3 separate regions of the Homo sapiens genome follow, and regions 1 and 3 are each linked to region 2. The links come from fine-mapping of genetic effects on gene expression. A gene starts in region 2. Each other region holds a variant in brackets. All regions are shown on one strand. Distances are from middle to middle. Region 1 holds the start of ELFN1 (extracellular leucine rich repeat and fibronectin type III domain containing 1). Region 2 holds the start of DNAAF5 (dynein axonemal assembly factor 5). Region 3 holds the start of LOC124901567 (a long non-coding RNA gene).

What was found. PIP is the estimated chance that this variant, and not a neighbour inherited with it, causes the effect.
Region 1: its variant is fine-mapped to the expression of DNAAF5 in esophagus muscle (GTEx, PIP 0.98).
Region 3: its variant is fine-mapped to the expression of DNAAF5 in liver (GTEx, PIP 0.98). The same link has a PIP of 0.9 or more in breast.

Annotation. Positions count from the first base shown.
Region 1 is chr7:1,669,310-1,677,483 of GRCh38, forward strand. ELFN1 (extracellular leucine rich repeat and fibronectin type III domain containing 1) reads left to right here and starts at 968. Exons shown (of 4, transcript NM_001128636.4): 1 at 968-1,045. RefSeq lists enhancers at 1-399, 400-1,106, 1,107-1,813, 1,814-2,520. The variant G/A (reference allele first, on the strand shown) is at 4,275.
Region 2 is chr7:722,283-730,456 of GRCh38, forward strand. DNAAF5 (dynein axonemal assembly factor 5) reads left to right here and starts at 4,417. Exons shown (of 13, transcript NM_017802.4): 1 at 4,417-5,033; 2 at 7,381-7,565. The coding sequence starts at 4,439. It overlaps PRKAR1B (protein kinase cAMP-dependent type I regulatory subunit beta), which reads right to left and starts at 4,999. Exons shown (of 11, transcript NM_001164760.2): 1 at 4,928-4,999. RefSeq lists silencers at 4,490-4,689, 4,940-4,989, 5,050-5,159, 5,200-5,279.
Region 3 is chr7:788,002-796,175 of GRCh38, forward strand. It overlaps LOC124901567 (a long non-coding RNA gene), which reads left to right and starts at 1,452. Exons shown (of 2, transcript XR_007060175.1): 1 at 1,452-1,522. The variant T/C (reference allele first, on the strand shown) is at 4,965.

The DNA.
Region 1 (8,174 bases), 950 kb after region 2:
GCCGGGAACCAGAGGCGGGCGGGGGACAGGAAGCGGGGAGGGGGCGCCGGCGGGGACGCGCGGGCTGCGCGGGGACTGGAGAGGGTCCCCAGGCGCCGGCCGTTCTGCGAACGCGGGCTTGTCCAGGCACCGCCGGGGCCTGCCCGGCCCGAGCGTGGAGTCCCGAGGCTCCTGCCGGGGGTCCAGGCTGCCCCTGGGGCTCTGCCTTCGACGCGCTGTGTAGGGCCAGATTCTGGGCCTCTCTTGACTCAGTTTCCCTTCCTGTAACATGCGGACGGGGGCTTCCGCACAGGCAGGTTGTCAGGGTGAAACTGAGCCGAAGAGTGCTCCAGAACCCCCTGAAGTCCTCACAGAGGTTGGGGTGAATGAAGGAAGGAAGCGGGGCCAGGGCTGGGCAGAGGAGGCCCGGCCTGCGCCCTGCGTTCTCCGCCCCTAGGTCCCTGCCCTCCCGGATAAGGGGCGGACCGACGGGAGGACCTGAGAACGCCTTGGCTTTGCTTGAGGTGGTGGGAGTCGCGGGTAGCTTGTTCAGCCAACAGCTGTCGCCCCCACTCCCCCCACCCACCCACCCACCCCCTCCACCTTTTAGATGTGGGCGGGGAGGGCCGGGGACGGACCGCGAGGACGCCCCCTGCGCTTTCTAGGACCTCCCCTCCTTCCCCAGCCCCTGCGCGTCGCCGGGAGAGGGAAGGAGCGGGTTGCCGCGGGGAGCCGAGGAGAGCAGGGGGCTCGGGAGGCCAGGGAGAGAAGGGGAGGGCCAGAGGCTCCGAGCCGGACTCGCGGCGGAGGAAGAGGGGGTGGAAGGGAGCGCGCAGGCGGGCGAGGGAGCGAGGGAGGGAGAGAAGGAGGGAGGGAGGGAGGGAAGGGGGGCGGGAGGGGGCAGGGCGAGCTTGAATTCCCCCCCGGCCGCGCGGCGAGGGGCGGGGCCGCGCGCGCAGATCGATGGGCGAAGCTGGGGAGGAATTTCAATCCCGGGAGCGAAGTTAGAGCTTGAAGGACGGCGGCGGCTGCGGGCGCAGCCCCGGAACCGAGGCCGGGCGGGCAGGTAAGCGGCGAGCGCGGCCGGGCGCTGAACCTGGGGGACTTGGGACCCGGACCACCCCCGGGGAGCGGCGCGGCCAAGCCCCCCGCCACCTCGAACCCCGGGCGTCCCCGAGTGCGCAGCGTGCGCCCCCAGCCCCTGCTGCGCCCCCAGGCCTGGCGCGCGATCCGAGCGCAGCGGGCAAAGTTGGAGGAACTTGGCGGCGGCGGAGCGGGCGCAGGCTCAGCCCGACAAAGCCCGGGGGCCCGGGTCGGGGTCGCTGCCGCAGCCCGCACGCTGCCCCGTGCCTCCGAGAGGTCCCTTCCCCAGCGCCTCTCTCCCTTCCGTCCCCCTTCGCCGTCCGCACCCTGCCCGGCGCCCCCCAGACGCGGCCCCCTGCCCTTCCCTTCCCGGAAATTAGGGGGCTGTCCTCACCTCCTGGCCGAGTCGCTGACCCCTCCCCAGGCTCGCATCGCCCTCCCTGCTGGGCCGCCCTCCCCCCGACGCTGCGAGCCTCCTCGCTCCGCGCGGGGACCGTCCAGTCACGCACGGGGAGGGGTCACATTCCTCGGTCCCAGCCCCTGAGTCCAACCACTGGCGGGGGGGTGGGGTGGGGGGCTTCGCTCCGAACTGAACTTACTGGGTGCTTTCCACCCCTCGCCCCACCTGGAGTCCATCCTCGTCCTCGTCCCTCTGGGGGCTGGGAGGAGGCTGCCAAGCCTCCGTGCCCCAACCTGCCTCTAAAGACAAGCGCCCCCATTTCCATCCTTTGAAACCTGCAGGTCACCTGCTTGATGCTGAGGGTGGGGCGGGGGGCACTGCCTGCCGTACCGCACACCGCCCCCCCCCCCATAAAAACGACACCCTCTGAGATGAAAATCCGGCTTTTCCAGGTCTCAGCTGTGTGACCTTGGGGCAGGTGAATCTCAGAGCCTCAGTTTCCACACCTGTGAAATGGGGCTAGGATGATCATGCCTTCTGAAAAAAACGAAGGCTTAGCAGAAAGGGTCGAGGCCGGCCGAGCCAGGTGTGCACGTCCTCAAAAAGCCTCCGTGCCAGCACTTTCCCTTCCTGCACACCCGGAGTGGGGCCTCTTTGGACCCTGGCTTGGGCTGGCTGCCTCTGCCGCTCATTCCCTCGATTGGGCTAAGGGCTGTGCGGAGAGCCTGGGGACAGAAGCTGTGGAGGGACCGGGAGCCAGGAGCAGATGTAAATGGCAAATCTCCCCATATTGCCTCTCTCAGGGGCTGCCCCCTAGAGAGGCCCCCAGCCTCCAAAGAGGTCCAGCTTGCACCCAGCCTTGGGGGAAACCCCATTGGGTTGGGCATAGGTTGCTTGAAAAGCATCAACATGCTCCTCTTCTCTGCCTGGCTGGCCCCCTGGCCTCCTGCCCCCTGGGTCCCTGCCCCTGCCACCTTTTAATTGAACAAGCATTGAGAAGACTGGCTTACAGGTCCCAGCCCAGGTTTGCGCCCCACTCCACCAAAGCAGGGGGACAAACTCCAGGGGGCCGTGTGTGGGAGGGGGTCACCCCCTCACCTGGATTTGAGGGGGTTTGGAGCCCAGCCAGGACCCCAGCACTTGGGTCCCTCATTTTCCTGGGCATACGGTGGTCAGGGAGTTCTGATCCCCACCCCTAGTGGGCAGAAGACCTGGGGGTCTCCAAGTCAGAGATTGGGGGCCATGCCCCTCCCCCTGTCCTACAGCCAGCTGTGCAGCCCCCTCCTCCTCGGCCGCAGCAGGACTGCTGTGTGCGTATAATTCAGGATGATACAGCAGGCTCGGCAGGCAGCTCCCGACTCCCAGAAAAGCCAGTGGGCACCTGAACCAGAGCCACACTCCTGAGGCCTGGTAAGTCTGGGGTAAGGGTGCAGGGATGTGGTGGGCACCTGCACCCAGGACCAGAGGAGGGGAGGGAGGGCGGCGTCCCTTCCCCACCATGCCCCAGGACTGCCACTGGAAAGCACTGATTTTTCAAAGTGTCTTTGGAGGCAGGCTCCCCACACCTGGGCCAGGGAGAGGCTGCTGCTCCTCCACCTCCCTACCACGGTCCCCACCAAGAAACAGGTGTCCGGGGTCCCAGCAAGCGCCCAGGGCCAGAGCCTGGAGTAGTTGCCTGTCTCGGACCCCGGCATTTGAATATTTTCACCCTAAATGTATACTTGTAGGCTTCACCTGCTCTCCAGGAGAGAAAAATTAATGGGACTAAAATATGACCACAGTGCCTGAGATCAATGGGGTAAAATCGGAGTGGCTGCCTGGGTCCCATGTTGGTGACTTTCTCTATCTGTTTCCAACACACACGCATCAGCTCTAGATTTTGATAGAATTTTCTAAGCACTCAGGAAAGCCTCCTTCTAAGGTCCCCCTGAGGTCAGAGCCCCCACCCCAGGATCCCTTCCCCCCCGACAAGCCAATTCCCCATTTTGGTAGGGGACTGTGTTTCTCCGTGCCAGACTCAGACACCATCGCATTGGAGGAAATTTATGAGCAGAGGTGCATGGACTTGGGGTGTTCATATATCTTCACAAGAAAGAAACAGGCAGGCCCTCGAGATGCCCGGGTGGGTGGTGCATAAATACACGAGGGGGCCGGTGGCGGGGCGGGGGGCAGGATTAAAAATGCAAGTGAGTGACAGGCGAGAGATAGATAGATCTCCAGGGCTGGGTGATGAGGCCATAAATTTCCAGGCGTGAACCTGGAGCGGATGGTGGCACCGCCGCGGACATTGGATACATTTGTCATCTCTCCAGCGCCCCCCCCCGCTCTTTCCTTTTTGTTTTTGTTGTGGATTTGGTTTCTTCCAGCACAAGCTCAGGTGTCAAGTGGCCTTGGGTGGGTGTTTGTGGGGGTGGCTGGTGGTGGAGCCACTGCAGTGGACGATGGCGCCATCCATTCCAGCACCAGCTGTACAGATGGGGAGACTGAGGCCCGGATTGGGGTGGGGCCGGAGAGGGTGGTGGAGGGGTCCTATGTCTGGCGTCTGTGTCCTGTTGTGTTGGTTCAGGTCAGGGGATTCCAGCAGGGTGGGAGGCCTTGGTCGTTGGGGGCTGCTGCCTCCCTTCACCCCTGTGCACCCTGAGCCAGTCAGTGGCACCGACAGTAAACAGGAAGCAGGGTGGCAGCTATGGGCACTCGAGCCCAGCACCGTGCCCCCCCTCCCCGCCCCCTGCCCCGGATGTCCCTTTCCCAAGGCTGGTGGATTGAGACCTGGTTCTGTCCCACCTCTTCCAGCCTCCTGGGGAGGGAGGGC[G/A]GGAGGTGAGAGACCACCCTGGGAGCGCTGATGGCAGACAAGGGCCAACTGTGTGCCCTACCTGGAGCCTGGGACAAAGCCCAGAGGAGCCTGGCTGCCTTGGAGCTGGCATCCCCAGATGGAAAGACAATGGTCTCACAAATAAATGTGCCTCCTTTCCCTCGGAGATCAGCCGGTCCAGCCCCTGAAGATGGTCCAGCCGGTCCATTTTCCAGAAGGGTCCAGCATCGCCCGAGGTCACACAGCAAGTAAGCTGGAGCTGTGGCTGGACCAGGCCTCCACACCTGTAGAGCTGTCCTGGGGCAGCTGGGGTCTTGGTCTTGGAGAAGAGCTGGAACCCAGGCTGAGGCAGGAGGGGGTCCAGCAGGGCTTGAGGGACCTTCAGAGGGGAGGCAGAGAGGACGACTACTCCGCTCCCTGCTCCAGGCCACGGGGGTACACAGGAGCTGGTGGGGAAACTGAGTCAGGCGGCGAGGACCACTGCTCTGCTCCCTGCTCCGGGCCGTGAGGGGTGCACAGGAGCCAGTGGGGAAACTGAGTCAGGCAGAGAGGACCACTCCTCTGCTCCCTGCTCTGGGCCATGAGGGGTGCCCAGGAGCCGGTGGGGAAACTGAGGCAGAGAGGACCACTCCTCCGCTCCCTGCTCCGGGCCATGGGGGTGCACAGGAGCCAGTGGGGAAACTGAGCCATGGAGGCTGGTCCACACAGCTCTTCCCCACCCACATGGCTAGGACTCCTGGGGCTGTTCTGTGGTGGGAGACCCTGGAGTCTCAGGATCTCGGTTACTCAGCCCCGGTTGCCTCCCTTCTGCCCAGCAGTTAGTTCCTCAGGACTCACGGCTTCCAGGCTCCCCTCGCCTGTGAGCCGGACCCAAGCTCCTCTTTGGGGCTGAGGAGGAGGGGTCTAGCTGGCCCCTATAGGGTGGGCAGAGTTTAGATAACCCCACAGGAAGAGGCAGGCATCCAGGCAGGAGAGGCAGCGGAAGGGAAGGTGTGAGGCCCCCAGAGCAGTGAGGGGGGTGGGGAGAGGGGCCATGACAGTGGACGGTGACCCCCCCGCCCTCGACGTCTGCCCTAATGTCTTCCTCTGCCAGTTCCAGGACAGACTCGGGCAGCCACAGTGGGAGAGACTGGTGGAAGGGACAGGGCCTTGCCTCCCTGTGTGTTGTGCCCAGTGCCCCCACATGAGGCTGGGGTATATTGGAAAACTGCACTCTGGGCTTCCGAGGGAGGGATGGGGACAGAGGAGGCACAGCCGGGCGGGAAACATCCTTCGGCCCGGGCCAGCCCAGCCATCACCAGGTCCACTGTGTTTGCTAGAGCCCCCAATTCAATCTCTGAATTTTAAAGATAGGGACACTGAGGCGCAGACAGGGCAGTGGCCGCAAGCCACTGAGGCTTGCAGGCAGTGGTATCTGGGCTCAGCCCTGCTCCCATGCTGGGCTCCCCACACCTCATATCCGGGCTCAGCTGGGAGAGTGCCCTGGCCTTACCGACGGGGACCCGGCAGCCCACGGCGTGGAGGTGAACCAGCTTGTCTGGGAAGCCACATTCCACCCCTGTGCACCCCCAGGCCCTCTGTGGCCCACTACCCCCTCTAGGACCCCACCCCACAGAAGCGCATCTCTCTGCTGTCCGCCCCACTCCAGTGGTAACTTCTGTCAGAGGGCTTGTCACAGAGTGCTGACCGCGCTGAGAGCTTCTCACCAGCGCTGGACATGTGGCCAGGTGGCGGCCGAGGGCTCGGGGGCGGGGGTCTGTCCACGTGACAGGTGCACACCCCGGCATTGCTGCCCTGACATTTGGAGGCTGTTGGGTTGGGTCCAGGCGGAATCCTTCCTGGGATGGAAACCCCGGGAGATGATTGACAGCCTGGAGGCTCCCCCGTGTTTACCGACAGATCCGAGTCTTATTTTCAGCAGGATCAAACTCAGGCACCTCTTAGTCATTAACTCTCTCTAGTTTAATAAACACAGATACAAACACAGCCAGCCATGTGCCCGCCCCACATGGATGAGAATCCCGCCCGGCTTCCTGGGGCCGAGGAGCGGGGTCTGGAAATGGGGGGGCCGTCGGGGGGCTCCCCAGACCCTCGGCCGGTGCGCAGGAGGCCCTGCAGGGAGAGGGCTTTGCAGAGCACACAGTGAGGCGTCGCTGGCCCGGAGGGACGAGTCAAGGACAGCTGTGTGCCTTCACAGTCCCGCGCTGTCGAGACACAGCCCGAAGTAGTGGCTGGGAAGGTGTCCCGGAGATACCCACAGCACAGCTGCCCCGCCAGGGCTGCATGAAGGGTTGGCCAGCGCTTGGCTCCCTCACTGCCATCTCGACCTCCACGGCCTCCCTAGAAGCCCAAGGGGCTGGGGACCCTCAGGATGTGTCTCCTGGGCGTGGACTCTGGGCTGTGCTGTGGCTCCTGCCTGGCCCCCGCACTGGTCAGAGTGCTGACCGAGGGAGGCTGCCTGGGAGGGGGACTGGGATGCTTCCCGGACATGTCTGGAAAGGTGGCAGCTGGTTCCTAGACCAGATCCCAAGGGAGATGGCATTAGCCAAGTGCCTACCTCTGCCTAAAGGGTGCTGGTAGTGGCTCCAGGGCACCCTGGAGAGGAACCCCCAGTCTGTTGTCTCCCTGCCTGAGGGGAGCCTGCACTGAGGCCTCTGCCCTCCTCACTGACAGACTGCCCCTGTGTCTGTTTGCCCCGTGGAAGCTGTGGAAGGGCCCGGCCTCTGCCCTCTTCACTGAGGGACCACCCCTGCATCTATCTGTCCTGTGGAATGGTGGAAGGGCTTGGCTGCAGATCATGGGGTGGCCCGGGCTGGGGAGCCTCTGGTGTTCGGCGTGACCTGAGGTGGGTCCCTTCCCTTCCCGGAGCCTCGGCCTCTCCTCCGTCATGTGAGGACGGGGGTGGATGGATGGCTGTGGGGAGTGTAAATGGCTGACACCAGTTCTGGAAAGGGCAGAGCCGCCACTGCTGGCAGAATCCCCCGCCCTTCTGACTTGCCCTGCATGGCCCTCAGACCTGCAGCCCTGGAACCTGGATGGGGCGCAGGTTCGGTCCCTGCGTCCCTCTGTGCCCTGCTGTGCAAAGAGACAGGGAAGGAGGATGCTGGGGAAGGGAGAGCAGGTGTAATGGCCCCGCAGCCGAGACACGCTTCGTGTGGGTGAAGGGCAAGGCCAGTGCAGCTGGCCGTGGGGGCTGAGAGGTGAGCGGGAGAGGCCCCAGGGTCCGGGCTGCTCCTGTGTCGGAGCTCTTGGGAAGAGTTGGTTGGTACTCGGATTGCTTCGGGAAGTCTCTGGGGAGTTTGCAGCAGCTGAGAGACAAGGCTGGCTTTAAAGCATCCCTCTGATGTCGACGGAGAAAGGGTTTTTAAGGGCACACGAGGGAATGAGCCACCCAGGGGACTGCCGACGTCTGAAAGCCATGAGGGTAGCCCGTACTGGGTGCCGACGCTGGCAGCGGAGAGACAGAGAGGATGTAACTTCTGTTTTGACAGTGCTTAGAAATTGGAGCTACATTCCTATAGAGAAAAATATTCTGTAAGGCAAAACCCATTTTCCTATTTATATTCATTAGGAAATGAGGGAGGCCGTCCTGTGGAGAGGAAGGTTGTGCGAAGCAAGTCCTGCTTCCCTTTGACAGCCATTAGCATTTCAGAGCTGTGTTCTTGGGGAGATGAACCCCCCAGAATGGATTGGTATGAAACAGTGGGGTCATCTTGGCACAGAACCCCTCAGGGTGCCCACAGAAGTGGGGCTCAGGGCCCATTCCTCAGGTATCCGGCACCCCGGCTTCCTCCAGGAGACGGGATTCTCAGATCTTCATTTGCGTGTGGCTCTGGGTGCAGATGGGTGTCCAAGTGAATATGGGAGCAGGCACGCATGTTCACGTGTGTGCGTGTAGAT
Region 2 (8,174 bases):
GTAGAGATGGGGTTTCACCATGTTGTCCAGGCTGGTTTCAAACTCCTGACCTCAGGTGATCTGCCCGCCTCGGCCTCACAAAGTGCTGGGATGACAGGCGTAAGCCACTGCACCTGGCTAATTTTTCTATTTTTAGTAGAGATGGGGTTTCACCATGTTATCCAGGCTGGTTTCAAACTCCTGACCACAGGTGATCTGCCTGCCTTGGCCTCACAAAGTGCTGGGATGACAGGCGTGAGCCACCGCGCCTGGCTAATTTTTGTATTTTTAGTAGAGATGGGGTTTCACCATGTTGTCCAGGCTGGTTTCAAACTCCTGACCTCAGGTGATCTGCCCGCCTTGGCCTCACAAAGTGCTGGGATGACAGGCGTGAGCCACCGCGCCCAGCTGGTTCTTATGACTCTGCTTTAAAATTCTTGGCAGATGATTCCAACATGTGACCTATCTTGGAATTTACATCCGTTACCTTACCATGTTCAGGTTGTGGCTTTCCTTGTTCTTGGTATGACAAGTGATCTCCAGATGTATCCTGGACATTTGGGTTACGATGTTTGCAGACTCCTTGTCCTACTCTATTCCACCAGGCAGTTGCTCTGTTCAGGTCCAGGGTGTAGATTGCAGCCTGTTTTTGTGGTCTGTCATTCCAACAGCAGTTTCGTCTTCAGAGCCCTGGCACTGCCCTCCTCGTCTGCTTTATTCTTCTGGCTCTCCTGGGACTGCTGCTCATTTCCCATGGGTGCTGCCTGCAGGGGTGAAAGGTACCTCCCTGGGCCGCCTGGTGTCACTGGGCTACCTTTTGCTGTGTCAGGACAGAACATGCTCGTTCTGGGTCTCTTTGTGCTAAGAGAGGAAGGGCAGATTTCAGGCTCCTCTGACACTACCTGTGCAGTGCAGACTGTCCACTCGAACCCCAGTTGCACAGCACAGGTTAATGCACCTGCAGCAGCTTTAAAATCGGCCCTGAAAGCAGACTGTGGGGTGAAGGTGGCAGCTACCCTCTAGGTCTCTGTTGGGCGTCCCCTTTCCCAGGGCTTTGGCCAGAGAGAGGAGGCTTTCCTTGGAGAATTTCTGTCTGTGCCTGTTGGCTGTTCTGGGCCACAGGCTTCCCTGGGGACTAGTGCAGGAACACATGAGAGAAAAAGAAAACCCAGGGGACCCACCACCTTGCTATTCCTCCAGTCCAGAGGTCTCCAGCCCGTCTGTCAACTCTCAAGCTCCTTTCCTCGTCGCCTGCTATGTGCAGGGTATTTTGTTGTATTTCAATGGGAGGAGCAAGGAAAAGTGAAGTCCCACCACCGTAATTCAAGCGCTTATTCTTTCTCGTCTTCAGCACTCACTGCCACAGCCTTCCCAGGGCTCCCGACCAATCCGTTCAACGGAAGCCAAAGGGGTCCTTGAAAAATGCAGACTCGATCTTGCCAATGCTCCCACCTTGAAATCCTCAGTCTGCCATGTTTTAGGACAGAGGCCCCCATGGCCTGGCCCCACCCATCTGCTCACTCCCTGCCTGCTCCCCTGTGACCAGGGTCAGCCTCCCTCCCTGTTTGCTACCTGAGGCTGCCGTAACAAAGCACACCAGGCTGGGCAGCTGAATGAAACAAATTTGATTTCTCAAGATCAGGGTACGGGCTGGCTCCTCTTGAGGTCTCTCTTCATGCTCATACTGCATTCTCCCTGTATGCACGTCTATCTCCAAAATTTCTCCTTTTATGAGGACAGCAGTCATATTGGATGAGTGCCCAACCTCATGACCTCATCTCACCTCAATCACGTCTGCAAAGACCTTGTCTCCAAACAGGATCACTTCCTGAACTATGGGGGTTAGGACTTCAGCATATGAATTTTGGGGAGACGCCATTCAGCCCGTAACACTCCCATGAGGCCTTTGCTCATGCTATTTCCTCTCTCTCCAACACTCCCCGTCTCCCACCTCCGCCCTTTCACCTGGCTATGTGACATGGTTTGGCTGTGTCCCCACCCAAATCTCATCTTGAATTGTAGCTCCCACAATTCCCACGTGTTGTGGGAAGGACCCAGTGGGAGGTAACTGAATAATGGGGGCAGGTCTTTCCTGTGCTGTTCCTATGATGGTGAATAAGTCTCACGAGATCTGACGGTTTTATAAGGGGGAGTTTCCCTGCACAGGCTCTCTCATTTTCTCTTTGCCTGCTGCCATCATGTAAGATGTGACTTGCTCCTTCCCGCCTTCGGCCATCATTGTGAGGCCTCCCCAGCCATGTGGAACTGTGAGTCCAGTAAACCTTTCCCTGTATAAGTTACCCAGTCTCGGCCATGTCTTTATTAGCAGCGTGAAAATGGACTAATACACTGTGTTTACTTATTCTTCATATTTCACCTCTGCTACCATTTGTTCAGGGAAGCCTTAAAAGTCTAGTTCAACATCCCTTGACACTCATTCTCTCAGGACCACCACGGTTAAACACATACTAATTTATCCTTCCATTAAGGGCTATCTCATCCTGCAAGACCCTAAGATCTGGGAGAGCAGGGACCATGGCCAGTTTCTACATCATTGTCATCCTGTCCCACATGTTGCAGACAGTGCCTGGTCAAACAAATGCCTGTTGGAGGAAACAATGAATGAAGGTTACTGAATATGCTACATAACAACTTTTCAGAAGTACTGATGGGCCGGGCGTGGTGGCTCACGCCTGTAATCCCAGCACTCTGGGAGGCTGAGGCGGGCGGATCACGAGGTCAGGACATCGAGACCATCCTGGCTAACACAGTGAAACCCCGTCTCTACTAAAAATACAAAAAATTAGCTGGGCGTGGTCGTGGGCACCTGCAGTCCCAGCTACTTGGGAGGCTGAGGCAGGAGAATGGCATGAACCTGGGAGGCAGAGTCTGCAGTGAGCGGAGATCGCGCCACTGCACTCCAGGCTGGGCGACAGAGCAAGATTCCATCTCAAAAAAAAAAAAAAAAGACGTACCGACAAACACCACCATTTTGCAACACGAAGATCAACAACAAAAAAGAAGGTCAAACTTGAAGTTCTGTCCTAAAATTACACACATTCTGCCTTTAGAAAACTCAGTGCATGGTCACAGATGAGAAGTGCCTGGCTAACCAGACTTGGGGACTCCTGGTTTGCAGTGAGTGCTGTCAAACTCGCGTTCTAGGCTGGGCTCACAGCAACTCCGACTCCAAGCTGTTTAGGCGCCTCTGTCTCCACTCAAGTCCACAGTCAAGGTCACTACTGTGAAACACTGTCTTGCTTTTAATTTCCAAGCTGCCTTGTTATTTCTTGGGAGTAGGCCAAGCTAACTTTAGGAGGAACTTAGTTTATAGTTTAACTTTGAAACAAAGATGATAACAGCCCTTTCCTGAAGCCAACCTCCTTCTTGCCTGGGGACCAGAATGCTTTTGTAAGACTAACACATGAGCCACAAGATTAGAAATTGTGGTTTGAGTCATGCAGCTAGAGGCCACAAGATTCCAAACCTCCCCAGTTGCTCCTTAGGATAACACCACTATCATCAACTCTAAGATTGGTGCTCAAGATATTTTTCAGGCTCTGCATTCTGATGCACCAGGTGCCACCACCCACACCACTAATCTGGCTCAACCAGTTCTGTGATCCCACCCAGGAACAGAAGACAGCAAGAGAATCAACTTTGACTCTCCATGGTTTCATCTCCAACCCGACCAATAAGCACTGCCCTCTCCCTGGCCCCCTACCTGCCTAATTATCCTTAGATGACCCATCTCAGGATTTTCAGAACCTGGTTTGAGCAATAAAGCTCCAGTGTCCTTTAGCCAGTTTCTGCATGCAGCCAGTTTCTGCATGCAGCCAGTTTCTGCATGCATTAAACTCTCTATTGCAATTCCCCTGTCTTGATAAATTGGCTCTACCTGGGCAGCGAGTAAGGCGAACCTATTGGGCGGCTACGCCTGAGATCTAATGACAGGCTGCACGTGAAGCCCAGACCAGGCACCTGTCTTACACCACAGGGGGATCCAGTCCACAGAACCAGCGTCCTTCCCTCCTGGAACGGACCTTCCCAAAGCCAGAGGGGCTCTAGGCGGCTCAAACAGGGGCTTCCCGGCTACCCTGGTCCCAGGCGGGACCACTCAGGTTCCTTCTCCAAGCCCCCTAGGCTGCAGGGCAGGCTTCCCTAGGGGCAGGCCCAGGCCTATAGCCCGGGACCCGCATCCCGGGCGAGCTGCACCCTCCCGAGACCTTCCCCATCTGTACAATGGGGACAGGACAAGGCCCAGCAGGCAGGCTGGCGGGGGTTCCGGCGACAGAGGGGGACAGCGGGCGAGCACGACAAGAGCACAGGCCCACGTGCGCACCGGCGGGGAGGAAGTAGCCCGGCGCCCCGCCCGCAGCGCGGACCGGAAGTGCTGCCGTAATCTGCGCTGAGAGTCGCGAAAGCGCTGTTCCCCTTAGTGACCGGCGACGCGGGCAAGATGGCGGCGCTGGGGGTGGCGGAGGCCGTGGCGGCCCCACACCCGGCTGAGGGGGCCGAGACGGCTGAGGCGGTGGAGCTGAGCCGCGCCCTGAGCCGCCTGCTGCCGGGGCTGGAGGCCGACAGCAAGCCGGGCCGGCGGCGCGCCTTGGAGGCCCTGCGGCGCGCGCTGGAGGAGCCAGGCCCTGCCGCCGACCCCACCGCTTTCCAGGGCCCCTGGGCGCGCCTACTGCTGCCGCGCTTGCTGCGCTGCCTGAGCGACCCCGCCGAGGGCTGCCGCGCGCTGGCAGTGCACCTGCTGGATCTGGGCCTGCGCCGCGCCGCGCGGCCCCGCGATGCCCTGCCGCGCCTGCTGCCCGCGCTCGCCGCGCGCTTGGCCGGCCCCGTGCCCGCGCGCCGCCCGCCCGAGGCCTGTGAGGAGCTGCGCCTGGCGCTTGTGCAGCTGCTGGGCCTGGCCGTGGACCTGTGCGGCGCCGCGCTCGCGCCCCACCTGGACGACGCTCTGCGCGCGCTGCGCTGCTCCCTGCTCGACCCCTTCGCCGCCGTGCGCCGCGAGAGCTGCAGCTGCGCCGCCGCCCTGGCGCAGGCCACGCCCGGTGAGCACCCCGGGCCCCGCTCCCACACGCCACCCCACACTCTCACCCCCACCTCCACCTCCGCGGCCCCTCTCACAACCCCCGCGGCTCGGCCCCGCCCCCCTCCACGCCCGCACCCCCCAACATCCCGGACCCCCCATGCGCCGCTTCCCCCACCCGCCTGCCCCAAAGCACCCCGCCCGGCCCCCTCCTCCCACCACCACTGCTTCCCCTGCCTCACGTCCCGCCACCAACGCGCCCTTCAGCTGCTCCCTTGTCCTCTACCCCCATGTACCTGTTTCCTGCGCTGCCACGTGCTCCTTGCCCCGTGACCCCTGTTCCTGCTTGGCCCTCACTCACCTCACTCCCCTGTCCCCTTGCTCCCCGCCTCCACCCTCCACGCCCCAAGCCCCGCCCCCCACCTGCCTGCTCCCTGTGCCCCCTCCACCTGCCTATCCTGTGCCATCCTCCTCCTTGCACGCCGCCCTCCCGCGACCCTCACCTCCCACCCTCCTCCCTGCCTGAGCCCCCTCCACCCCACCCGGGCCCACGAGCCAGCGCTTCTGTCCAGATACCTGGAAACCACCGCAGAAATTCCTGTTAGGCGGTTTGGGGTGGGGTGTGCCCTGATAGCTGCCCCCTTTCCTTCCCTCGGGGGCTTGCAGGACTTGCACCTGGTTGAGGGCACGCGCTTTGAGACTCTGCTCTGGTCATTTCACTTTCTGTCCCATTCATCCTACTCCCCTGCCTTTCCGCTCTGGCTTGGACCACTGTCCTAAGTGGAAGGAGGCCGCTTCTCCCCTCCACTTTATAACGTTCCCCATCTTTTTTAGAGCTCTGATCTGATCCGGTCGTTCCCTTTCCTTAGCTGGCCATTCCTGCAGGGTCTTGCCCTTTCCCTCCCCTGGCTGGGATGTGGAATGATAGCAGGCGCCTGCTTCCTGCTGGCGGGAAGGCTTTCCGAAGGAGGGAACACTGATGCTATAAATCCGTGGGCGGTAGGGAGCAGGAAAGCAGTGAGGGATCTGGCCAGCTCAGGCCGTCCCAGTGATGTCCCAGTGATGGTCTGAATGTAGTGGGAAGTGCAGGGGGTGTCAATAGAAGTGATAGACCCGAGTTCAGGTTGTTAAAAGATCACTGCAGCTGCGTGGAGAATAGATTCCAGAAGTAGAGGAAGAGCTGGACTTGGGGAAATGCCGAGATTTCCACGTTGGTTAACTTTGGATTTCACATGGTCCAGAACTCCTGTGGAGCTTGGGGAAGAACCTTGGGCTGGATGGACATGGCCATTGAGAATTCCTGGCATTTAATGTATTTCTTCTTCATCCTCAACCACTTCCCTACCCAGTCTGTACATCAGCCCCACGAGCTCCCTCCCTGGACCGTAGGTTCCACAGGACAGCACTGTGCCCATCTGTGCCCCAGCCCCAAGCGCAGCCTGCTGGGGTATGTGCTCACTGGTTGCTGTGGGGTGAGGGACTGTGCCTCTGCCTGGAGCATCCCCTCATCTCCAGCACCTCTGGCCTTCCTCTCCCCTGGGTGGGGGGCCTCACCTCTGGTCTCGGTCACACTGGGCAACGGCAGAGAGGTTGAGGCGCTCACCCAAAGTCTCACTGGAATAGCCGTTTCCCAGACGGGCCCCAAGTAGTGCAGAGCTGAGGCAAGAGGCGGCCTGGATGCCAGAGACCCTTTGGTTCTGACTTTTTTTTTTTTTTTTTTTGAGACAGGGTTTCACTCTGTCTCCCAGGCTGGAGTGCAGTGGGGCGATCTCAGCTCACTGCAACCTCCGCCTCCTGAGTTCAAGCGATTCTCCTGCCTCAGCCTCCCAAGTAGCTGGGATTACAGGCGCCTGCCACCTCTTGTTCTGACTTTCTGCGGGGACTTTACAAATAGGAAGTGCAGTGGCTTTGCCTGGAGTGGTGCTGGCCCAGCTTCCTGGAGGAGCCTGGGGTCTCGTCTCAGGTGGGGCTGGGAGTGTGGCCTCGCCTCTGTCTTCTGGGCTCGGCTTCTTTCCTCTGGCCAGTGTCCCCGTCAGGCCTCCACCTTGGCTTCAGCAGGTCCAGGCTCTCTGGTCTTCAGCCACAATGGGTTTGCACCCCCAGCCTTTCCCCGCTGGTCCTCCTAAGCCTCTGGGTTGCACAGGTGTCATCAGGGTGGGACGCTTGTCCCTGAGCCTCTTCCTGTGCCGGGCGGTACAGAGCTCTCCTTGGCAGCCTGGATTGTGTACTGTTCATGCAGCAAGGACCTGGCGTAGGAGAGGAAGGGAGGTGAGGAACTCATAGGCAGGCAGCCGTCCTCTGGAAGCCCACAGAGCTGGGCGAGGCGTGTGGGAGCAGCTCTGGTAACTGGGGGCCTCCCTGTCCCTCAGACCACTTCCACATGCAGTCGGAGTCTCTGATCGGGCCCCTGATGCAGACCATCTCCCACCAGCACTGGAAGGTCCGTGTGGCCGCCATTGAAGCCACAGGCGCAGTGATCCATTTTGGCAACGGGAAGTCCGTGGACGACGTGCTTTCCCATTTTGCTCAGCGACTGTTTGATGACGTCCCGCAGGTAACTGGTGTTTCTCCTGGACAGTCTGTTCCTCTCTCCAACACAGGCGGGCTGACGTGCTGTTTTTAACTAACTCACTTGTTCTTTTTTCAGAGTGCTGTATGCACCAAATGTCCTTTCATTATTCCTAGTCACAGGACGTTCCTGTTCACATCTTGGAAAAACTAGAAGAGAGCTGAACTGTTTTAATGTTTGATGTTATGAATTCCAAGGATGTTAGAAAGGATGACTTGTGTAGTTATTGTCTCTTAGGCACAGTGTGCACTTCAGCAGTTGCAGAAGGTTCCTTAGTGCTCCCATCCATCAAGACGCACTTTCCCGAAAAGCCACCATGGTTGGTGGACCTGGACTGGGAGAAGAGTGGAGTCGGGGTTGGTTTGTTGGGGATAATTATGTCGTTGGGCTTTGGAACCCACCAAGAGACGGGCAGGCAGGCAGGCAGGAGTCCTACAGATGGGGCTGAGTGTTGGCTTTACTGCTGGCAGAATCTGGCCTGGAGGGCATGTCTTGGATCTGAGGCCCCAGTGACTTGCTAAAATGCTACACACTGTGGCCACCGGGGAAGCTGAGTGACCTCTGATCTTTCTGTCTCTGAGTTACCTGTCATCG
Region 3 (8,174 bases), 66 kb after region 2:
GGCCCCTCGACCCCTCGGACGCAAGTGCACCAACCCCTGGGCCGTCCCTCGCCCTGCATGCTGGGGCCACAGCATGGGAAGAGACATCAGCGCTGCCGCTCCGTCTCTACACATCTGTAAAGGGAGCTCCCAGGGACCTGGCACGTCCACAGGTGCGTGTGTTCAGAGAAAGACGGAAACCCAGCCTACAAGGGTTCACAGACACCCAAGAGGCATTACGTCCCTCTCCACTTAATTCTTTGAAATGTTGATAGGCCGGGTGTGGTGGTTCATGCCTGTAAAATCCAGCACTTTGGGATGCTGAGTGGAGAGGATCACTTGAGCCCAGGAGTTCGAGACCAGCCTGGGGAACAGAGGGAGACCCCATCTCTACCAAAAATTTTTAAAATGAGCCGGGCGTGTTGGTGGCCCATGCCTGTAATCCCAGCACTTTGGGAGGCCAAGGCGGGCAGATCTCTTGAGGCCAGGAATTCAAGACCAGCCTGGACAGCATTGGGAAACCCCGTCTCTACAAAAAAATTTTAAAAATGAGTGGGCATGGTGGCGCACACCTGCAGTCTGAGCTACTCAGGAGTCTGAGATGGAAGAATCACCCGAGCCTGAGAAATCGAAGCTGCAGTTACCCAAGATTGCACTCACTTTTTTTAAACAAGTGAGACCTTGTTTAAAAAAAAAATTTTGTAAATCATAAATGAGTGCATTAATACAACATGTACTTTTTTTGTCTTGCCTCTTTCACTCATCAGTTTTGATGTCCATCTATGTTGGGGTGTCCATCAATAGTTCATTCCTTTTTGCTGCTGCGTAATATTCCATTCTATAGATAAGCCACAGTGTGTTCACCCACTCAGCTTTTGACGTGTGTTTGAGGTCTTTCCAGGTTTTGGCTATTACAAATAAAGCTTCTTCCAACATTTGTGTACATGTCTTTGTATGGATAGGTACTTTCATTTCTCTTGGATAAACATCTAGTAGAATGGCAGTCATGGTGGATGTATACTAAATTTTTAAGAAACTACCATTCTATTTTCCAGAGTGGCGGGACCATTTCCACCAGCCCTGTGCAAGAATTCCAGTTCCTCCCATATTTGCCAACACTAGCTAATCAGTTTTTAATTTTAGCCATTTTAATAGGTACATAGTTGTATCTCATTATGGTTTTAGTTTGCATTTCCCTAATGTCTAATGAGGCTGAGCATCTTTTCATATGCTTATTTGCCATCTGTGTATCTTTTTTGGTGAAGAGTCTTTTTAAATATTGACATGGTTTGGCTGAGTGTCCCCACCCAAATCTCATGTTGAACTATAATTCCCAGTGTTGAGGGAAGGACCTGGTGGGAGGTGATTGGATCATGGGGATGGATTTCTCCCTTGCTGTTCTCATGATAGTGAGTTCTTATGAGATCTGGTTGTTTAAAAGTGTGCCTTCTCTCTCCCGTCGCCATGTGAAGATGTGCCTGGTTCCCCTTCACCTTCTGCCATGATTGGAAGTTTCCTGAGGCCTCCCCACCCATGGAGAACTGTGAGTCAATTAAACCTCTTTTCTTCATAAACAAGCCAGTCTCAGGTAGTTCTTTATGGCAATGTGAGAACGGACTAATACAAATATCTTGCCCATTTAGACAAAACTGGGTTGTGTTCTTCCTGAATATTGAGAATTCTTCATATATTCTAGGTACAAGTCCTTTATCATATATCTATGATTTGCAAATATTTTCTCTCATTCCATAGCTTGTCTTTTCATTATTTTAACAATGTCGTTTGAAGAAGATAAGCTTTTTATTTTGAATGAAGTCTAATTTATCAATTTCTTTTTTAATGGATTGTGCTTTTGGTGTTGTATCTAGGAAATCTTTGCCTAACCCAAGGACACAAAGTCTTCAGTTCCTGAAGCTCAAAAAGCTGTTGTTGCCAGGCACAGTGGCTCACGCCTGTAATCCCAGCACTTTGGGAGGCCAAGGTGGGAGGGTCGCTTGAGCCCAGCTTGGGAATCATAAGGAGACCCTGTCTCTCCAGAAAAAAAAAAAAAAAAAACTAACCTGGCATGTTGGTGCATACCTGTAATTCCAGCTACTCGGGAGGCAGAGGCGGGAGGATCTCCTGGGCCTAGGATGTTGAGGCTGTAGTGAGCTACGATTGCACCACTGCACTCCAACCTGGGCAATCGTGCGAGACCCCATCTCAAACAAACAAACAAAAAGCTCTTGTCATAGGCCAGGCACGGTTGCTTATGCCTGTAATCCCAGCACTTTGGGAAGCCAAAGGCTGGTGGATCACTTGAGGTCAGGAGTTCAAGACCAGCCTGGCCAAGATAGTGAAACCTCATCTATACTGAAAATACAAAAATTAGCCGGGGCTGGTGGTGGGCGCTTGTATCAAAGCTACTCAGTAAGCTGAGGTGAGAGAATTGCTTGAACCCAGGAGACGGACGTTACAGTGAGCTGAGATCACGCCACTGCACTCCAGCCTGGGTGACAGAGTGAGACTCTGTCTCAAAAAAATAAATAAAAACAACTCATCTATTTGTTCTTACCTACACTGTGATTCAAAGGCAATTTCTACTTCCCTTTGTAATCCCCTTTCTGTGACCTAAATGAAGAGCTGAGGTTACTGGAGGGTGGGAGCTGGTTGGTTGAAGAAAAAACACTCACCTTTTTGTAGCCAAAGACAGCCTTCTATATCAGTATGGGATGATCTCCAAAACACATTGTTAATTTTAAAAAACAAGGAGCACAGGCTGGGTGCGGTGGTTCACGCCTGAAATCCCAGCACTTTGTGAGGCCGAGGCGGGCAGATCACGAGGTCAGCAGTTCGAGACCAGCCTGGCCAACATAGTGAAACCCCGTCTCTACTAAAACTACAAAAATTAGCTGGGTGTGGTGGCGCATACCTGTAATCCCAGCTACTCGGGAGGCTGAGGCAGGAGAATTGCTTGAACCTGGGAGGTGGAGGTTGTGGTGAGCCGAGATCTTGCCACTGCACTCCAGCCTGGGCGACAAAGTGAGACTCCGTCTGAAGAAAAAAAAAAAAGGGAGCTGCTTCTTTTGCTTAGGCATAAAAAATTTCTGGAGGGGACAAAAGAAACCAGTTGAACAGTGAGGCCTCTGGAGAAGGGACCTGAGTGCCCCAGGGACTGGAGTGAGAGTCCAGTCTTTACCTCTTGGTACCATGGAATTTACTCCTCTCGGTTCCATGGAATTTACTCCTCTCGGTACCATGGAATTTACTTTTAGTGCACGTATTTATTACCCAGTCAAAAACAACTCTGCTGAGACTAACCTGTAATCGAAGCCTCACTGACACCTGATGCTGTTCTCGGCTCACAAGTCAGCACACTTGTTTCTTCTGTATCACGAACCCCTGTCCCAGGGAAGGGTGTTCAGGATGTCAAAGCAAAAGCTTTATCAGAAAGTTGTCTTGGGCAGGGTGTGGTGGCCCACGGCTGTAATCGCAACACTTTGGGAGGCTGAGGCAGGAGGATTGCTTGAACCTGAAAGTGGAGGCTGCAGTGGGTCTTGATGGCATCATGGCACTCCAGCCTGGGTGACAGAACAAGACCCCATCTCAAAGCAAACAAACAAAACTTGTCTTATTGAGAAATGAAAATGCAGAGACTTGTAGCCAAGTGCTCATAGCAGCTTTATTCTAGCCTCAAATTGGAAAAAACCCAAATGTCCATCAACAGTCCATCTGCAGTATAAACAAACTACAGTCTATCCAGACAACAGAATACGATTCTGTAGTCGAACGACAGGGCACACTGCAACGGAGACAGCTCCCACAGACACCAGGCCAGTGAGGAAAGACTGTATCTCATATAATTTATATGGAACTCGAGAACAGGCAAAGCTGTTCTATAGTCCTTTCTTTTTTCCTCTGAGCCAGGGTCTCACTCTGTCACCCAGGCTGGAGCACAAGGGTGCCCTCACAGCTCACTGCAGCCCCAGCCTCCCAAGCTCAAGCGATCCTCCCGCCTCAGCCTCCGGAGTAACTGGGACTACAGATGCACACCACCACCCCCAGCTAATTTTTTATTTTTAGTAGAGACGAGTTCTCACTATGTTGCCCAGACTGGTCTCGAACTCTCCGGCTGAAACGAACCTCCTAACTCAGCCTCCCAAAGTGCTGGGAGGACAGGCATGAGCCGCTGTGCCCAGCCTACTCCTTTTTAAATCACCGAATCAATGATGACTATATGGAGGCTCTTTATGTTTATTATATTATTCTCTCTACTTGTGTATGTGTGAATTCTGCATGAGTTTTTATAATGAAAAAATCACACTTCAAAAACAGTCACCTGGCTAAGCATGGAAGACACAGGCTCAGCCTGAGTGCTCTTGGAGGCTCTTCTCCAGGTGGGAGCAGGCCGGGCGGTGTCCCTTTTACTGAGCACTTGATTTTCCACTACCAGGTGTCTCCTCACTAGCCTGAGAACTTAGTTAAATTTTCTTTAAAGATAAATCTTTCATCCTAGCCAGAGCAATCAGGCAAGAGAAAGAAATAAAAGGCATCTAAATTGGAAAATAAGTCAAATTATCCCCATTTGCTGATGATATGATCATATATCTAGAAAACCTTCCAAAAAGCTCTTAGATGGGATGAATGCAGTTAAGCTGCAGAATACAAAATCAACATACACAGATCAGTAGTATTTCTGTCCGTTAATAATGATCTAGTTGACAAAGAAATCAAGGCAATCACACTTATAATAGCTACAAAAAAATAAAACACCAGCCGGGCGCAGTGGCTCACGCCTGTAATCCCAGCACTTTGGGAGGCCGAGGCGGGCAGATCACAAGGTCAGGAGATAGAGACCATCCTGGCTAACACGGTGAAACCCCGTCTCTACTAAAAATACAAAAAAAAAATTAGCCGGGCGTGGTGGCGGGCGCCTGTAGTCCCAGCTACTTGGGAGGCTGAGGCAGGAGAATGGCGTGAACCCGGGAGGCGGAGCTTGCAGTGAG[T/C]GGAGATCGTGCCACTGCACTCCAGCCTGGGTGACAGAGCCAGACTCCGTCTCAAAAAAAAGAACGAGATCCTGACTTTTGCAGCAACATAGATGGAACTGGAGGCCATGATCTTAGTGAAACAAGCCAGGTGCAGAAAGTCAAATACCACATATTTTGACTCATGAGTGGGTGCTAGAAAATGTGAACACGTGGACATAGAGAATGATAGACAGTGGAGACTCAGAAGGGTGAAGGGAGAAAAGGGAGTGGATGATGTAAAATGACTTAGTGGGTACAACATATGATATTCGGGCGATGGATCCCCAACAGCCCTGACTTGACCAGTATCCAGAATGCAATCTATGCATGTAACGAAACTGCACTGTACCCCACGTTCTTACAGCGATAGAATATTTCTCCTGACTTCTCCCCATTTTCCAGAATTCTATTTTTTTTCTTTTTTTTTTTTGAGACAGAGTCTCGCTCTGTCACCCAAGCTGGAGTGCAGTGGTGCGATCTCGGCTCACCGCTACCTCCACCTCCTGGGTTCGAGCAATTCTCCTGCCTCAGCCTCCTGAGTAGCTGGGATTACAGGCGCATGCCACCACACCTGGCTAATTTTTGTATTTTTTGTTTGTTTGTTTAGTAGAGATGGAGTTTCACCATGTTGGTCAGGCTGGTCTCGAACTCCTGACCTCGTGATCCACCCGCCTTGGCCTCCCAACGTGCTGGGATTACAGGCATGAGCCACCGTGCCCAGCCCAGAATTCTATAAATAGCATTGTCCATCTGATGTCAGAGAGAGAAACAATCCCTGGATGTTACTCAGGCTGGTGGGCTATGAATACCATGGTTTGTTGTTGTTTTGAGACGGAGTCTCGCTCTGTCACCCAGGCTGGAGGGCAGTGCTGCAATCTCAGCTCACTGCAACCTCTCCCTCCTGGGTTCAAGTGATTCTCCTGCCTCAGCCTCCCAAGTAGCTAGGGCTACAGGCGCCCACCACCATGCCCAAATGATTTTTGTATTTTTAGTAGAGATGGGGTTTCACCACATTGGCCAGGCTGGTCTCAAACTCCTGACCTCAAATGATTCACCCACCTGGGCCTCCCAAAATGCTGGCATTACAGGCGTGAGCCACCGCGCCCAGCCTTTTAAAAGCATTTTAAGAGGTCTCAGGCAGTGCCTTTCACAGAGAGGAGGCTGCAGCCTCCACGCAGGCCTCACCCTCTCCGCCTTCTTCCTTTGACCTCGGCATGTCCTTGATGTTGTACCCAAGGGTCTGTGCCGCTCTCCTGTGACTCTTCTTACAAGCAAATGATGGCTCCAGGAGCTGGCCTGGACCCTGAGGCCTAGAACCTGCCCCAAGGGGAAAAGCACCTGCTCATTTGTGTTTAGGCATTTACTCAACGCTTCTCTTAATGTCTTGGAAAGTGTCACTTAGGAGACAAGGCAGTGCTCACTCTTGGCTGACAACAAGGTAACTGTAGACAGAAGAATCTATTATTAGGCGTCTCCATGTTCTCTTCCTAGCTCATTGCTGGCACTGTCATCCTTACGTTAGTTTCCTTATATTTTGTTTTCTTTTCTTTTTTCTTTTCCTTTTTTTTTTTTTTCTGGAGACGAGAGTCTTGCTCTGTTGCCCAGTCTGCAGTGCAGGGATCCGGGTCCAGGGGATGTCTCTGAGCCCCCAATCCTTTACGGGGCCTTTTCCTGGGGTCCCTGTGGGCTCCATCCCGGGATGCAGGACAGAGATGTGGGATGCGGAAGGGTTCCCCGCAGGGATCCAGGTCCGGGGGCAGGAGGAGCCCAGAGGGTGGCACCATCACGCAAAGGCCTCCAGAGGCGTGGCCCGGGACAAGCACAGCGCCAGCCGCCTGCGCTGCCAGGGCAGGGTCCACACCCACAGACTGTAACCTGGACCCGGGCAGGGCGGGGTCCACACCCACAGACTGTAACCTGGACCCAGGTGGGGTCCACACCCGCGGACTGTAACCTGGACCTGGGCAGGGCAGGGTCCACACCCGCGGACTGTAACCTGGACCCGGGCAGGGCGGGGTCCACACCCTTGGACTGTAACCTGGACCCGGGCAGGGCGGGGTCCGCACCCGCGGACTGTAACCTGGACCCGGGCAGGGCGGGGTCCGCACCCGCGGACTCTAACCTGGACCCAGGCAGGGCAGGGTCCATCCACACCCACAGAATCTAACCTGGACTGGGGCAGGGCCTAAACCCAGGGACTCTAACCTGGACCCGGGCAGGGGAAGGGTCCACACCCGCAGACTCTAACCTGGACCAGAGCCTGGGAGGGTCCACACCCGCAGAATCTAACCTGGACCTGGGCAGGGCAGGGTCCACACCCACAGAGTCTGTCTAATCTGCAGAGGACAAGGGTGGGGTCTCCCACAGAGCCAGCCTGAGGGGTGGGTGCACCTGAGGGGTGGGCGCACCTGAGGGGTGGGCTCGTCGCCCTCTGCCTCATGCTGGCAGGACCCGAGAGGCCTGGGAGTGCTGGGAACTGAGAAACAGTCATCACCAATTAAAAGTCCCGCTGCCTTTTATTAACACCATGCGTCACCCTTCTGTACAATATCAGTGAGAAAACACTCGCCTAAAAAAAACCTTTTGTTGCTCTAAATTCTAAGCTGAACAGTTGCTGCAATCGCCAGTGAGTTTTAATACAGCTTCCGATTAGCACATTTTAATTACCCTTTATAAACATGCTCTAAGTGAAAGTCAATTCAGACAATGTCCAGTGAGGCAGTGGGATCCCATCACACACGGACTCACAGCGCACACTACTCCAATATTTAGGTAAATTCATGGCCGGGCGCGGTGGCTCACGCCTGTAATCCCAGCACTTTGGGAGGCCGAGGCGGGTGGATCACGAGGTCAAGAGATCGAGACCATCCTGACCTACATGGTGAAACCCCATCTCTACTAAAAATAGAAAAAAATTAGCTGGGCGTGGTGGCGGGCACCTGTAGTCCCAGCTACTCGGGAGGCTGAGGCAGGAGAATCGCTTGAACCCAGGAGGTGGAGGTTGCAGTGAGCCGAGATCGCGCCACTGCACTGCAGCCTGGGTGACAGAGTGAGACTCTGTCTCCGAAAAAAAAAAAAAAAAAAAAAGACTTTTAGGCCTTCAGTATTTAAAGGAGGAAAGTGGGCTGGAGGGGAAACAGGGACGGTGTGGTCACATTGTTGAATCCTCAAGTTTCAAGAGAAAAGGAA